3 separate regions of the Homo sapiens genome follow, and regions 1 and 2 are each linked to region 3. Evidence: fine-mapped expression QTL. A gene starts in region 3. Each other region holds a variant in brackets. All regions are shown on one strand. Distances are from middle to middle.

The links. PIP is the estimated chance that this variant, and not a neighbour inherited with it, causes the effect.
Region 1: its variant is the best candidate, but not a certain one, in a credible set for the expression of RPA1 in whole blood (INTERVAL, PIP 0.54).
Region 2: its variant is the best candidate, but not a certain one, in a credible set for the expression of RPA1 in monocytes (TOPMed, PIP 0.52).

The regions. Positions count from the first base shown.
Region 1 is chr17:1,892,923-1,897,161 of GRCh38, reverse strand. It overlaps RPA1 (replication protein A1), which reads right to left. Exons shown (of 17, transcript NM_002945.5): 16 at 2,067-2,153; 17 at 1-91. Among named protein-coding and RNA genes, the nearest start is that of RPA1, 65 kb to the right of the region's middle. The variant C/T (reference allele first, on the strand shown) is at 2,566.
Region 2 is chr17:1,789,142-1,793,380 of GRCh38, reverse strand. The region is part of intron 5 of SMYD4 (SET and MYND domain containing 4); the gene reads left to right. Among named protein-coding and RNA genes, the nearest start is that of SERPINF1, 29 kb to the right of the region's middle. The variant G/A (reference allele first, on the strand shown) is at 2,533.
Region 3 is chr17:1,828,280-1,832,518 of GRCh38, reverse strand. RPA1 (replication protein A1) reads right to left here and starts at 2,514. Exons shown (of 17, transcript NM_002945.5): 1 at 2,393-2,514. The coding sequence starts at 2,425. SMYD4 (SET and MYND domain containing 4) reads left to right here and starts at 2,617. Exons shown (of 11, transcript NM_052928.3): 1 at 2,617-2,793. RefSeq lists an enhancer at 1,118-1,618 and a silencer at 2,246-2,765.

The DNA.
Region 1 (4,239 bases), 65 kb before region 3:
TTCTCCTGATGCTCATGACCAGCCTTCGGCCATACTCTCTGTAGTCCACGGGCTTCACGTCCATCACAGTGGCCTTAATTCGAGACTCGTCCTTCAAAAAGGGAGAAGTAGTTTGTGAGCAGTGAAAGTGTGGTGTGGAGCAGTGAAACCCCTTTTGCTTCAGTGGTTTCAGTGAGCCCAGCGGGAGGGAACAGACGCACGGGTTCAGAGTTCAGTCATTCCAGTGAGTGACAGCCTCCTCCTGAATGTCTGGGGCTGGGCGAGTGAACAGGTCCTTTCTCCAGCACAGGCCCTTCTGATTCTTTACCCAAGCTCCCAAACACCCAGAAGCCTAGAATCCTAGTGAGATGGACTTTAGAGGGTTTCTCTAGTTTCATTTATTCTCCCTACTGCAGGGGATACAGCCCAGAGAGGACATGTGACTTGCACAAAGCCACACAGCTAGTTCTGAAAGCTAAACTTTCAAACTTTCATTTCAAGAAAAGCTGAGTGGTGAAAGGAAGAGCACCTGCAGCAGAGGGAGAGGACCGAGTCTGTCCTGTCTCAGCTCTGGGGAGGCAGCCTCTCTTCACTTCACCTTCCCTGTCCAGACACGATGGGGCTGAATGGCCCCAAAAATCCCCCCCAGCCCCACCCCACTCCCTGACATTGTTTCACGGTGACATCTGATCCCCTATCTCATTTAATGTTTATAGTAGTCGCAGAAGAACGGGCGTTAAGGTAAATACGTGAGTAAACCCTGCAATCAGCAGGGGCGTTTCTACCACTCCCCCTGCCCACTCGTACGTTTACACTCACGGCCTGAATGGTGCCTTTCCGGGCAGAACGGAGTGATACCCAGGAAGGCTGCACAGGCGAGCTCGGGGCTGTCACACTGCTGTGTGCTTGGTCGGTACTAAATCCCGTGATACTCGTAAGCATGATCAAAAGCAAAGCTCTGAAGTCAGGCTGCCTGGGTTGGACGTTAGCTCGACCACTTGCTAGCATACAACTTAGGCAAGTGACTTGTTCTCTGAATGCCCGTGTCTCTCTGTATGTAATTCCTTCAGTGGCAAAATAGGGTAACCACAGTTTCTACATATAGGGTTACTAGGCTCAAGTGAGATGTTCCACGTAAAGGATGTAGAACAGTTACCTGGCAGACCATGCTCAATACTGTTTGATTATAACTATAACTAAGCTGGGCGCGGTGGCTCATGCCTGTAATCCTGGCACTTTGGGAGGCTGAGGCGGGTGGATCATCTGAGGTCAGGAGTTCGAGACCAGCCTGGCCAACATGGTGAAAACTCCGTCTCTACTAAAAATACAAAAATTAGCCGGGCATGGTGGCGGGCGCCTGTAATCCCAGCTACTCGAGGGGCTAAGGCAGGAGAATCACTTGAACCCGGGAGGCGGAGGTTGTGGTGAGCCAAGATCGTCCCACTGCACTCCAGCCTGGGTGACAGAGACTCTGTCTCAAATAAATAAATAAATAAATAAATAAATAAATAAATAAATAAATACTATATGGTATTATGGGCAATTTCAGGAATTTTCAAGGTAGTTTTAACCACACGTGGCCTTTGTTTCATATACTGACTGACTGACTTAGAAACGGGGTTTCACTATGTTACCCAGGCTGGCCTTGAACTGCTGCCTCAGTCTCCCAAGTAGCTGGGACCACAGGCACACACCACCACGCCCGGCTCATATACTTAATATACTTTTCTACAATCTAAATTTGTCAAAGATATGACTCTACTGCATGCGTTATAATTTTTTTGTCAGAACACAGACGAAAAAATCCTAGGATTTAACTGAAAAAAAATAAAAATAAAAAAAATAAACAAACAAAAAAATCCATATTGTATTCCCCACCCCCCCGCCATTGTTTCGACAAGACACTTAAGCTCTCTCTCCTTCCTCATCTGAAAATGGGGATCATAACAGCACCTGTGTTGGGCAAAGTCAGCACCGGGGTCTGGCAGTGAGTACAGTAACTCCCTGCCAGGGAGTGTCACGACACTGCCGTAGGTGACAAACAGCACCTCCCCACCACCAACCCTGCTGCCCAGGCCCTTACTTACGTTGTAGGTCTCCACTTTGACCCTGACTCTGAATATGAAAGATCGGAAGTTGGCATTCTGGAAAACTTCTTCAAATGCCTGTTCATTCTGCAAAAACAAACATAAAACTTGACACATGGAAACCACTGGACAACTTGCAAATACTGATAAGACTTTTAAAAAGACTTCTGAAAATGCATCTCCTGGGTAGTTTCAAATTACTTAGGAATGACTCATCTACAGGTAACATTACATGAAACTGTTTTAAGTAGAATCTTATTGAAAATTAAAACACTAATCACATTCATAGAAGGTAGAATGGCAGTTGTCAGGGCCAGGGAGAAGAGGGTTTTGGAAAAGGAGCTATTGCTTAATGTGCAGAGTTTCAAATCGCCACCCATGAACAGTGTGTCTCCATTCTCCCCTTCCCTCCATCCTTGGAAAACACAAGGCTGTCGTCTGTCTCTATGAATTTGCCTATTTAAAAAAGTACTGGAAAAGGATGGTGGTGACAGGGGCA[C/T]AGTAATGTGAATGTACCTAACGCCACTAAACTGTACACGTAAAAATGGTTACAAAGGCAAATTTGGTTATGTATGCTTTACTAGACACAAAAAATTAAAAACGCTCTTAGGAAGTTTCTAAGACTTTAAGGCTGGGCACGGTGGCTCATACCTGTCATCCCAGCGCTTTGGGAAGCGGAAGCGGGTGGATCACTTGAGGTTGGGAGTTCAAGACCAGCCTGGCCAACACGGTGAAACCCCATCTCTACTAAAAACACAAAAATTAGCTGGGCATAGTGGCAGGTGCCTGTAATCCCAGGTACTAGGGAGGCTGAGGCAGAAGAATTGCTTCGACCTGAGAGGCGGAGGCTACAGTGAGCTGAGACTGCACTACTGCACTCCAGCATGGGCTATGGAGCGAGACTCTCAAAAAAAAAAAAAATTAGGAGGTCAGGTATGGTGGCGCGTGACTATAATCCCAATGTTTTGGGAGACCGAGGTGGGAGGACTGCTTGAGGCCAGGAGTTCAAGAATAGCCTGGGGAACATAGCAAAACCCCATCTCTACCAAAAAAAAAAAAAAAAAAACTTAAGCCAGGTATGGTGGCGTGTACCAGTAGTCCCAGCTACTCAGGAGACTGAGGTGGCAGGACTGTCTGAGCCCAAGAGTTTGAAGCTGCAGTGAGCCATGATCGCACACCACGGCGCTCCAACATGGGTGATGAGGCAAGACCTTGTCTCAAAAAAAAGAAAAAAAGGAAAAACACTCAGAAGAAAGTTCAATATAATTCGTGATTTCAGCCTCTGTATTTATAGCTACTGATTTGGTGTGCAAGCAGAGAAGACTGTTGAGGTGCGCAAAGGCTAGGGAAGGCCTAAAAACAATCCTTTTCCCTCTCTCACTCCTCAAATGCAATTTAAGTTTATTAAAAAAAAAAAAGTCTGGTAAACAGACAAGAATTAGAGAATATAGTTTGTATAAAGATGCATAAATAAATGTGTAATAACTATATTAACAGAGTTGATTGAGACCTTTGACAAAAAAAAAGAAAAACTAATTAATAGTTCACACCAACCTAGTGTTTTTTGCAAGTCACGCACGGCGTGAAAGCAGCTTTGCTATACAGAACTCTTTTCTGTAAAGGTTACTTGATCAAAACCCAAACCCAAACCAAATGGACTTTCAGATATGAAAATAAAACAATGGGTTAAAGCTTGAGAAAATTACACCGGCTGCCATTATGCTTCCAAGATGAGGGGCGTGGAGTGCGAACTCCAGGATCTCACGGTTCCTCGGGGAAGTTTCTATATGTCCTCATTCACCGGCAGAAAAAACAGTCAAATATAATAAGCTCATAAAAATCCTGAAAGGCTTACTCGGGCCTTAAAATCTGATACGAAAATTGAAGACCAGGTAAAAACAGACAAAAGATACTATCACACTTTAAAGTCAATTCTAGTTATTTCTGTAACAGGATTTGTTGAGACTATTTTGAGAGCTCTCATGGACAATTTAAAAAAAGAGTCAGGGCAGAGCCCAAACAGACAGAACTGGGGACAGGAAGAAAAAGAAAAACACACCAGAACAAATGGCAAAGCCTTTCATCTTTGTGGCCTTTACAAGTATTCCAACCAATTTGGAGGAAATCGGGGGAAAAGCCATCTACAGAAAGGTGCCCATTTATGTGGCCCAGA
Region 2 (4,239 bases), 39 kb after region 3:
AAAACTGCCGGGGTACAGAATTGTGAACAAGTGAAATTGTCATTGTTTTAACAATCCCCCCAAAAAAACCTCATAAACAAAAATTAGATGTAAATGGACAAAATGAGGGAATATCTCTAGCAACTATACAGCTCTTAAAATCAACTTTTAAAAATATGCATAGCGGCCAGGCACAGTGGCTCACACCTATAATCCCAGCACTTTGGAAGGCTGAGGCAGGAGGATTACTTGAGCCCACGAGTTAGAGACCACCCGGGGCAACATGGCTAAACTCTGTGTCTACAAAAATACAAAAATTAGCTGAGTGTGGTGGTGCGCGCTTGTGGTCTCAGCTACCCGGGAGTCTGAGGTGGGACAGCGGCTCGGGCCCAGGAGGTCGAGGCCGCCGTGAGCTGAGATCACCCCATTGCAACAGAGTGAGACCCTGTCTAAAAAATAGCAAGATAAAAATAAAAACATGCATAATGATGAAAATCTAAAGCCGGGTTGTGGTACTGTTTGCCCAATCTTATAAATTTCCCCCCAAAAAAGCACTGAATCGTACACTTAAGTGAATTTTACGGTAGATGGATTCTATCTCAGTACAGCTGTTGAAAGCACACGTGAGCAAGCACTGTATCGAAGTAGATAGTGATAAGTAAAAACGGTCACTCTCTAACCTCTCTAGTAATTAAAACCAGATACCTTTGTTGGCCTGTCACGGCAGCAGAGTTGTTTTACTGGTTTTGTTTTTGTTTTTTGAGACAGGGCCTCTGTCTGTTGCCCAGGCTGGAGTGCAGCGGCGTGATCTCAGCTCACTGAAGCCTCGACCTCCAGGGTTCAACTGATCCTCCCTCCTCAGGCACCCAAGTAGCTGGGCTCAGGTGTGCACCACACCGGGCTAACTTTTGTATGTTTAGTAGAGACAGGGTTTCACCGTGTTAGCAAGGTGGTCTCCATCTCCTGACCTCGTGATCCGCCCACCTTGGCCTCCCAAAGTGCTGGGATTACAGGGGTGAGCCACCGTGCCCGACCTGTATTTTTAATTCTAAAATGCATTTTAGGCCAGGCGTGGTGGCTCAAGCCTGTAATCTCAGCACTTGAGGAGGCCGAGGTGGGAGGATCACGAGGTCAGGAGATCGAGACCATCCTGGCTAACGTGAAACCCCGTCTCTACTAAAAATACAAAAAATTAGCCGGGCGTGGTTGCGGGCGCCTGTAGTCCCAGCTACTCTGGAGGCTGAGGCAGGAGAATGGTGTGAACCCAGGAGGCGGAGCTTGCACTGAGCCGCGATCGCGCCCCTGCACTCACTCCAGCCTGGGCGACAGAGCGAGACCCCGTCTCAAAAAAAAAAAAAATGTATTTTAGGTTAGGATTTAAAGATAACATGTTATATCTGCCTGATGGCATTACAAGCAACTGTCATTTTCTCTGTAATGTTCAATTTTTAAATTTTTTTCTGACTACCACGTATTCCTTTTGTAATTTCAATTAGTGGTTTTTTGTTTGTTTTTGAGACAGGGTCTCACTCTGTCACTTAGGCTGGAGTGCAGTGGGGCGATCGTAGCTCACTGTAACCTCAAACTCCTGGGCTCAAGCGATCCTCCCACCTCTGCCTCCCAAAGTGCTGGGATTACAGGCGTGAGCCACTGCGCCCAGCCTCAGTTAGTTTTTTTAATAATAAAGATAATTCAAATGATAAGAGTACTTTTCTATGAACATTTTTAAGGCACTTGATACAGCTTGCAAAATTGCCCTCCAGGAAAGTTCCACTGACGCGCCCACCAGCAAGGTTCACTTTCATTGTTAAATTTCATCTCATTTTCTTTTAGTCTGCTCATATTTCTAATCTTGTTATATCCCTTTTTATTATTTCTTTGGGGTTCCAATCCCTCTCAATTTAGTGTTCTCATTGAATTTCATTAGCAGCTGTTTCATTAGTAGTACAGGCAAAGGATTAAAGTGTTAACTAGGATAGACTTTGACAAAAACCTATAAAAATGTATGTTATTATCTTTGCATAAATCCTGTTTAATCAAAGTTCCCCAGAAACCTCTCACTAGGGCTTATCTCAAGGGACAGAACTGGCCACTGATGATTTTCTAGACCGTGACACGTGTGGTTCTGTCTCAGTGGGAATGGCATATTTATGATCTATCCGGATTCCTGTCATAACAAGATTTTATTGGGGTTCTGTGTCCTGTCACTTCCCATCAATTCACTGCCCATTGCTTTCACTCTTCAGCATTGAAGGAATCTATCTTTTTTTTTTTTTTTTTTTTTTGAGACGGGCCAGCCCAGGCTGGAGTGCAGTGGCGCGATCTCGGCTCACTGCAAGCTCCACCTCCCGGGTTCACTCCGTTCTCCTGCCTCAGCCTCCCGAGTAGCTGGGACTACAGGCGCCCACCACCATGCCCGGCTAATTTTTTTGTATTTTTAGTAGAGACGGGGTTTCGCCGTGTTAGCCAGGAAGGTCTCGATCTCCTGACCTCGTGATCCACCCGCCTGGGCCTCCCAAAGTGCTGGGATTACAGGCGTGAGCCACCGCGCCC[G/A]GCATGAATCTTTTTTCTTTACTTGAATCCCAGTTTAAATGCACCAGGGATGGGCATGGCTTAGCCAGCACTTTGGGAGGCCAAGGTGGGTGGATCACGAGGTCAGAAGTTCGAGACTAGCCTGACTAACATGCTGAAACCTGTCTTCTACTAAAAATACAAAAATGAGCTGAGTGTGGTGATGGGCGCCTGTAATCCCAGCTACTCAGGAGGCTGAGGCAGGAGAATCGCTTGAACCCAGGAGGCGGAGGTTGCAGTGAGATGAGATCATGCCACTGCATTCCAGCCTAGGCGACAGAGTGAGACTACATCTGAAAAATAAATAAATAAAAAGAAATGCACTAGGGATATTAGCAAGGTACTGTTTTGGTATAGAATCACTCCCTCTTTATTTTAATACAAAATGTCACAGATTAAATTTGGTTGAGGAACTACATACATATTCTCACTTTCTATTATCTCTACTAATAGATGATTAATGCACAATACTGAGTAATTTTTAAAAATCAATACTTAATTTTTTAGAAATAATTAGAGAGCTATTCAACTCTGACATAAATACCCACACGGTTCCTGGGCCTACTTCTGTCAGAGGGTAATCTATAAATAATTCACAAAGCTGACATTACTCACTGTAGTGTGATCATTCTTTTCTGGAAAATTTTAGCAATGGTTCTAATATAGATTGCCAGTTATCAGTAGTTGGCAATGCAAGTCCACTTTTAATTATGCAGAGGCTGATTATTCAGACGACAAATTGTTCATGCCCTGGACGGCTCCTTCCTGCCACCTGCCTTTTAGCATTTTCACTGCTCATTAGCACATATACCAGAAGGTGGGCACCGGACAAGGGGGAGAAGAAGAAACAAAAATCAGCGAAGCACTTAGGAGAAGCTCTGATGAAAGATTTTAATACAATTTGTAGAATTATTAACTAGAATTGAGTCATTTGGATTCCCTGCAAAATGTATTTACTTGTTCTATTCTTGTTCTCCTTAGCAACAGATAGTAAAATTGACAACAAAATTGACAACATTATTCCTATATTCAGTGTTTTCCTTTATAAAACTTTTTTTTTTTTTTTGAGACAGAGTCTCGCTCTTTCACCCAGGCTGGAGTGCAGTGGTGCGATCTCGGCTCACTGCAACCTCCACCTCCCAGTTTCAAGCGATTCTCCTGCTTCAGCCTCCCGAGTAGCAGGGATTACTGGTGCACGCCACCACGCTCAGCTAAGTTTTTATATTTTTGGTAGAGACGAGGGTTCACCATGTTGGCCAAGCTGGTGTTGAACTCCTGACCTCAAGTGATCTGCCCGCCTTGGCCTCCCAAAGTGCTGGGATTACAGGCGTGAGCCTCTGCACCTGGCCTATAAAACATTTTCACATAATGGTTCATAATATTTTCTTTATCCATTACATTTGTACCTAGACTATTTCTTTGGTGAATTTGTTTTTTTTGTTTTGCGAGACAGTTTTGCTCTGTCACCCAGGCTGGAGTGCAGCAGTGTGATCTGGGCTCACTGCAACCTCCTCCTCCTGGATTCAAGCAATTCTCGTACCTCGCCTCCCGAGTAGCTGGGACTACAGGCGCATGCCACCATGCCCAGCTAATTTTTGTGTTTTTAGTAGAGACAGGGTTTTGCCATTTTGGCCAGGCTACTCTCGAACTTCTGACCTCAGGTGATCCACCCGCCTCGGCCTCCCAAAG
Region 3 (4,239 bases):
GCTACCTGGGAGGCTGAGGGAGGAGAATTGCTTGAACCCAGGAGGCGGAGGTTGCAGTGAGTCAAGATCGTGCCACTGCACTCCAGCCTGGGCAACAGAGCAAGACTCCATCTCAAAAAGAAAAAAAATAAATAATTCAATAAGTGAATGAACAGGAATTGGGGTCTCAAAGGGATTTAGCCTAGTAAGGGAAGTCACAAATGAGCTGAGATACGAAGATAGTGTTTGCCAGTGTGGGGAAGAGTGAAGAACCACCCAGGCAGTGGGCAGAGGGAAAAAAATGTTCAGGGCCGGGTGCGGTGGCTCACTTCTGTAATCCCAGCACTTTGGGAGGCCGAGGAGGGTGGATCACCTAAGGTTGGGAGTTCAAGACCAGCCTGGGCAACATGGTGAAACCCCCGTGTCTACTAAAAATACAAAAAATTACGCAGGTGTGGTGGTACATGCCTGTAATCCCAGCTACTCTGGAGGCAGAGGCACGAGAACTGCCTGAACCCAGAAGGCAGAGGTTGCAGTGAGCCGAGATTGCGCCACCGCACTCCAGCCTGGGGCGGTAGTGGGGGGGTATGGGGAGAAAGAGTGAGACTCTGCCTCAAAAAAAAAAAAAAAAAAAAAAAAAAGGCCGGGCACAGTGGCTCACGCCTGTAACCCCAACACTTTGGGAGGCCGAGGCGGGCGAATCACAAGGTCAGGAGATCGAGACCATCCTGGCTAACACGGTGAAACCCCGTCTCTACTAAAAAATACAAAAAATTAGCCGGGCGTGGTGGCGGGTACCTGTAGTCCCAGCTATTCGGGAGGCTGAGACAGGAGAATGGCGTGAACCCAGGAGGCAGAGCTTGCAGTGAGCCGAGATCGCGCCACTGCCCTCCAGCCTGGGCAACAGAGCAAGATTCCAGCTCAAAAAAAAAAAAAAAAGTTCAAAGGCCCCATGGAAGAAGGTAGGAGTATGGAATATACCAGAAATCTAAATTTAAAAAAAAATGTGGGGGTGACTGGAGAGGTAGGCTGAGAGTATGCTGTGGATGGGAATGGTGGCAGGAACGTATGCTGAGTGGAAGTCAGCAGCTCAGGCAAAAAAAAAGACGGTGCCAGTATGGATGGAGAGAAGCCAGTGGGCTTGATAGATCTACGCAGAGGCAAAATACACTTCACTTCGTGAGGGACTGGATGCCCAGGTAATGGACAATATAGGAGGAATGATTTCTCAATTTCTGGTTAGCACTGAACTGAATAGATAATGGTGCCATCCGTGGAGATAGGGATCAAGAGGCCCAGACTTAGAAAGATAAAGAATTTGCTTTGGGATACGTATACTGAACTTAAAACCCTCTGAAGCATGGAATAAGCAGACAGATGACGGAAGTTTGTCTTTTAGAGTAAAGGTGGCTCTGTACAAAGAAATTTGTGAGCAACTGACATATATTAATAGATGGCAATGGAATTGCCTTGGGGCCAGGCGCGGTGGTTCATGCCTGTAATTCCAGCATTTTGGGAGGCCGAGGCGGGCGGATAACTTGAGGTCTGGTGTTCGAGATCAGCCTGGCCAACATGATGAAACCCAGTCTCTAATAAAAACACAAAAAGTAGCCGAGTGTGGTGGCGCACACATGTAGTCCCAGCTACTCGGGAGGCTGAGACAGGAGACTCACTTGCACCCGGGAGACGGAGGTTGCAGTGAGCCGAGATCGCGCCTCTGCACTCCAGCCTGGGCGACAGTGAGTGTCGCCCAGGCTGGAGAAAAAAAAAGAAATTGCCTCGGGAGTCAAGAGGGCCTAGAGGGAGCCTTGATTCAACAAAAATTTACAAAGAGGGACTTACAAATAAGACGGGGATAGACCTGCCAAGCTGAGCCACTAAAAACCAAGGAAGAGGGTGTGACCTGAAGCAAGCAGGGCTTAAACGCAAACGCTGCTGAGAACTCAGGTAAGCTGAAAACGGAAAAGGGCTGGATTTAGCAACTTGGAGGCCACTGGTACCTTCAGCCAGGGTTTTCTACAGCGATCAAAGGGATGACTGGAGTGGGTTAAAGAGTTGATGAAAGGCGAGGAAAGGAAGTGGCTGAAACCAGACAAGAAGTTTGGCTGTGGGTGGGGAAAGGAGAAGAGACAGAAAGTGTCCGCAGGTGGAAGATGCAGAGAAAGGCAAGCGTTTATTTAGTTTGTTCTTACGTAGGAAAAATGTGAGCATGTTTTAAAGACGATCGAAAGAATGCTTTGAGGAGGGGGCGATGACACTAGAGGGACGCCCGGCGGGTCCCCACCGCCCCCCGCCATCTCCTCCCCTCGCGTTCATCCCCCGTCGCCCCGGGCTCCCCTCCCCCTCTCTACTCCGCGAGGCTCGGGGCCGCAGCCACCCCGGACCGCCGGCCCAGCCCCCGGCACCTCCTCACCGCAATGGCCCCCTCGCTCAGTTGGCCGACCATGGCTCCACCGCCAAGACTTCCCCGCGGACCCCGCAACAGCTCCAGCTTCCCCACCCGGGTCCCGCGCGCTGCGCAGTTATTGGCCCGAGAAGTTGCGCGCACCGCTCCCGCCCCCGACGTGCGCGCGGCTCAGGGGCGGGCCCGGGCGCTACGCAGCCGCCGCATTGGCCGAGGCGCGGCCCACGTGACCCACCCATGGTCCCAAGCGAGGCCTGGCGCGGGACGCCGGACGCGGTGCGGGGCGGAGCGGGGCGCCAAGGGGCGCGCCAGGAGCTGCGCGGGCGCTGGGAGGGAGACCAGGGCGCAGTTCCGGGCGCGTCTGAGCGGTTCTCGAGGCGTTCTCGCCTCGGTCTCTGGCGAGTGCACGGGTTGGTATCCCAGAGGAGGTTAAAGCTGTTCCTTGAGACCTCCGCTGCTAAATAGAGTCGCAGTAGTGACCCGATTCGTCCAGCAACGCGGGGCTGACTTCCCGCCTCCAAGCCCTGAGCTTGGCACCGTGGCGGTGGGGGGTGGGGGTGGGGGGTCTCCGAAAGGGAATCAGACCCGGCCCCCGTCCTTAGAGAAGAGGACAGTGTGTGGGGGCACTTTATGCCGTCAGTAACCCCACCTCCAGGTAGACGTGGTACAGGCCCCAAGGGTGTTGGAATCACAGCTGGGAAATCAGGGACGCCGTCCCGGAGGAGGTGCCATTTGAGCCGAGTCGAAGAACGTGTGGGAATTTTCCAGGTGGACTCCATAAGCCAGGGTAGGGTTGGTCCGGAAAGCATGAGTAGCCTATGCCAAAACATTGGAGAGTTGAAATAGCCTGGCAAGCCGGGGATAGCAATGAGTTGTTCAGTATGCAAGGGTGCATGCAGAGGAGTAAGTGACACCTGAGAATTAGAAAGTCAGACAAGGGTCAAGTAAGGATGGTTTTGTCCTGGGCTTCCTGGTATGCTTGGAGTAGCGTTGATGAATTTAAGGGCAGAGCACTGACTTCTGTCTCAGTGTTGGAGGCTGGATTGAAAGTGGGGAGTGGTGCCAATGGCATGGACATTAATTATAACACTCTAGGAAGAATGCCAGACGAGATGGTGAGGACTTAATCAGAACGCTGAACTATGTAAGAGAGGGAAATACCTTGTTAAATGAATAGTTGCTGGGGTGGGTGAGAAAGAAAAATCTGGGATGTGTCTCAGAGAAACTAGAGAGGGATCAGGCCGGGCGCGGTGGCTCACGCCTGTAATCCCAGCGCTTTGGGAGGCCAAGGCTGGCGGATCATCTGAGGTCAGGAGTTCGAGACCAGCCTGGCCAACATGGTGAAACCCCGTCTCTACTAAAAATACAAAAATTAGCCGGGCGTAGTTGCGCGCATCTGTAATCCCAGCTACTCGGAGGCTGAGGCAGGAGAATTGCTTGAACCTGGGAGGCGGAGGGTGCAGTGAGCCGAGATGGTGCCACTGCACTCCAGCCTGGGTGACAGAGCAAGACTCTGCCTCACAAAAAAAAAAAAAAGAGGATCTAAGAGCACAGATGGTAGCTATCTAGTCTGCTTCGTCTTTGTATAACCATCACCTGCATGGTGCCTGTGACAAAGTAGTCTTTCAGTAAATATTTCTGAATGGAAGGATGTTGAGTGAATTGCTGTGAGAAAATATAGATCCTTCCTTAGCATATAAACTAGAGGAAAAGACCACAAGAATTGATTTTATTGTTTCAGGCTTCCTTGAATGAAATCTTGATTTTCCTTTTTTTTTTTTTTCCGAGACAGAGTCTTGCTCTGTCACCCAGGCTGGAGTGCAATGGCGTGATCTCAGCTCACTGCAACCTCCGCC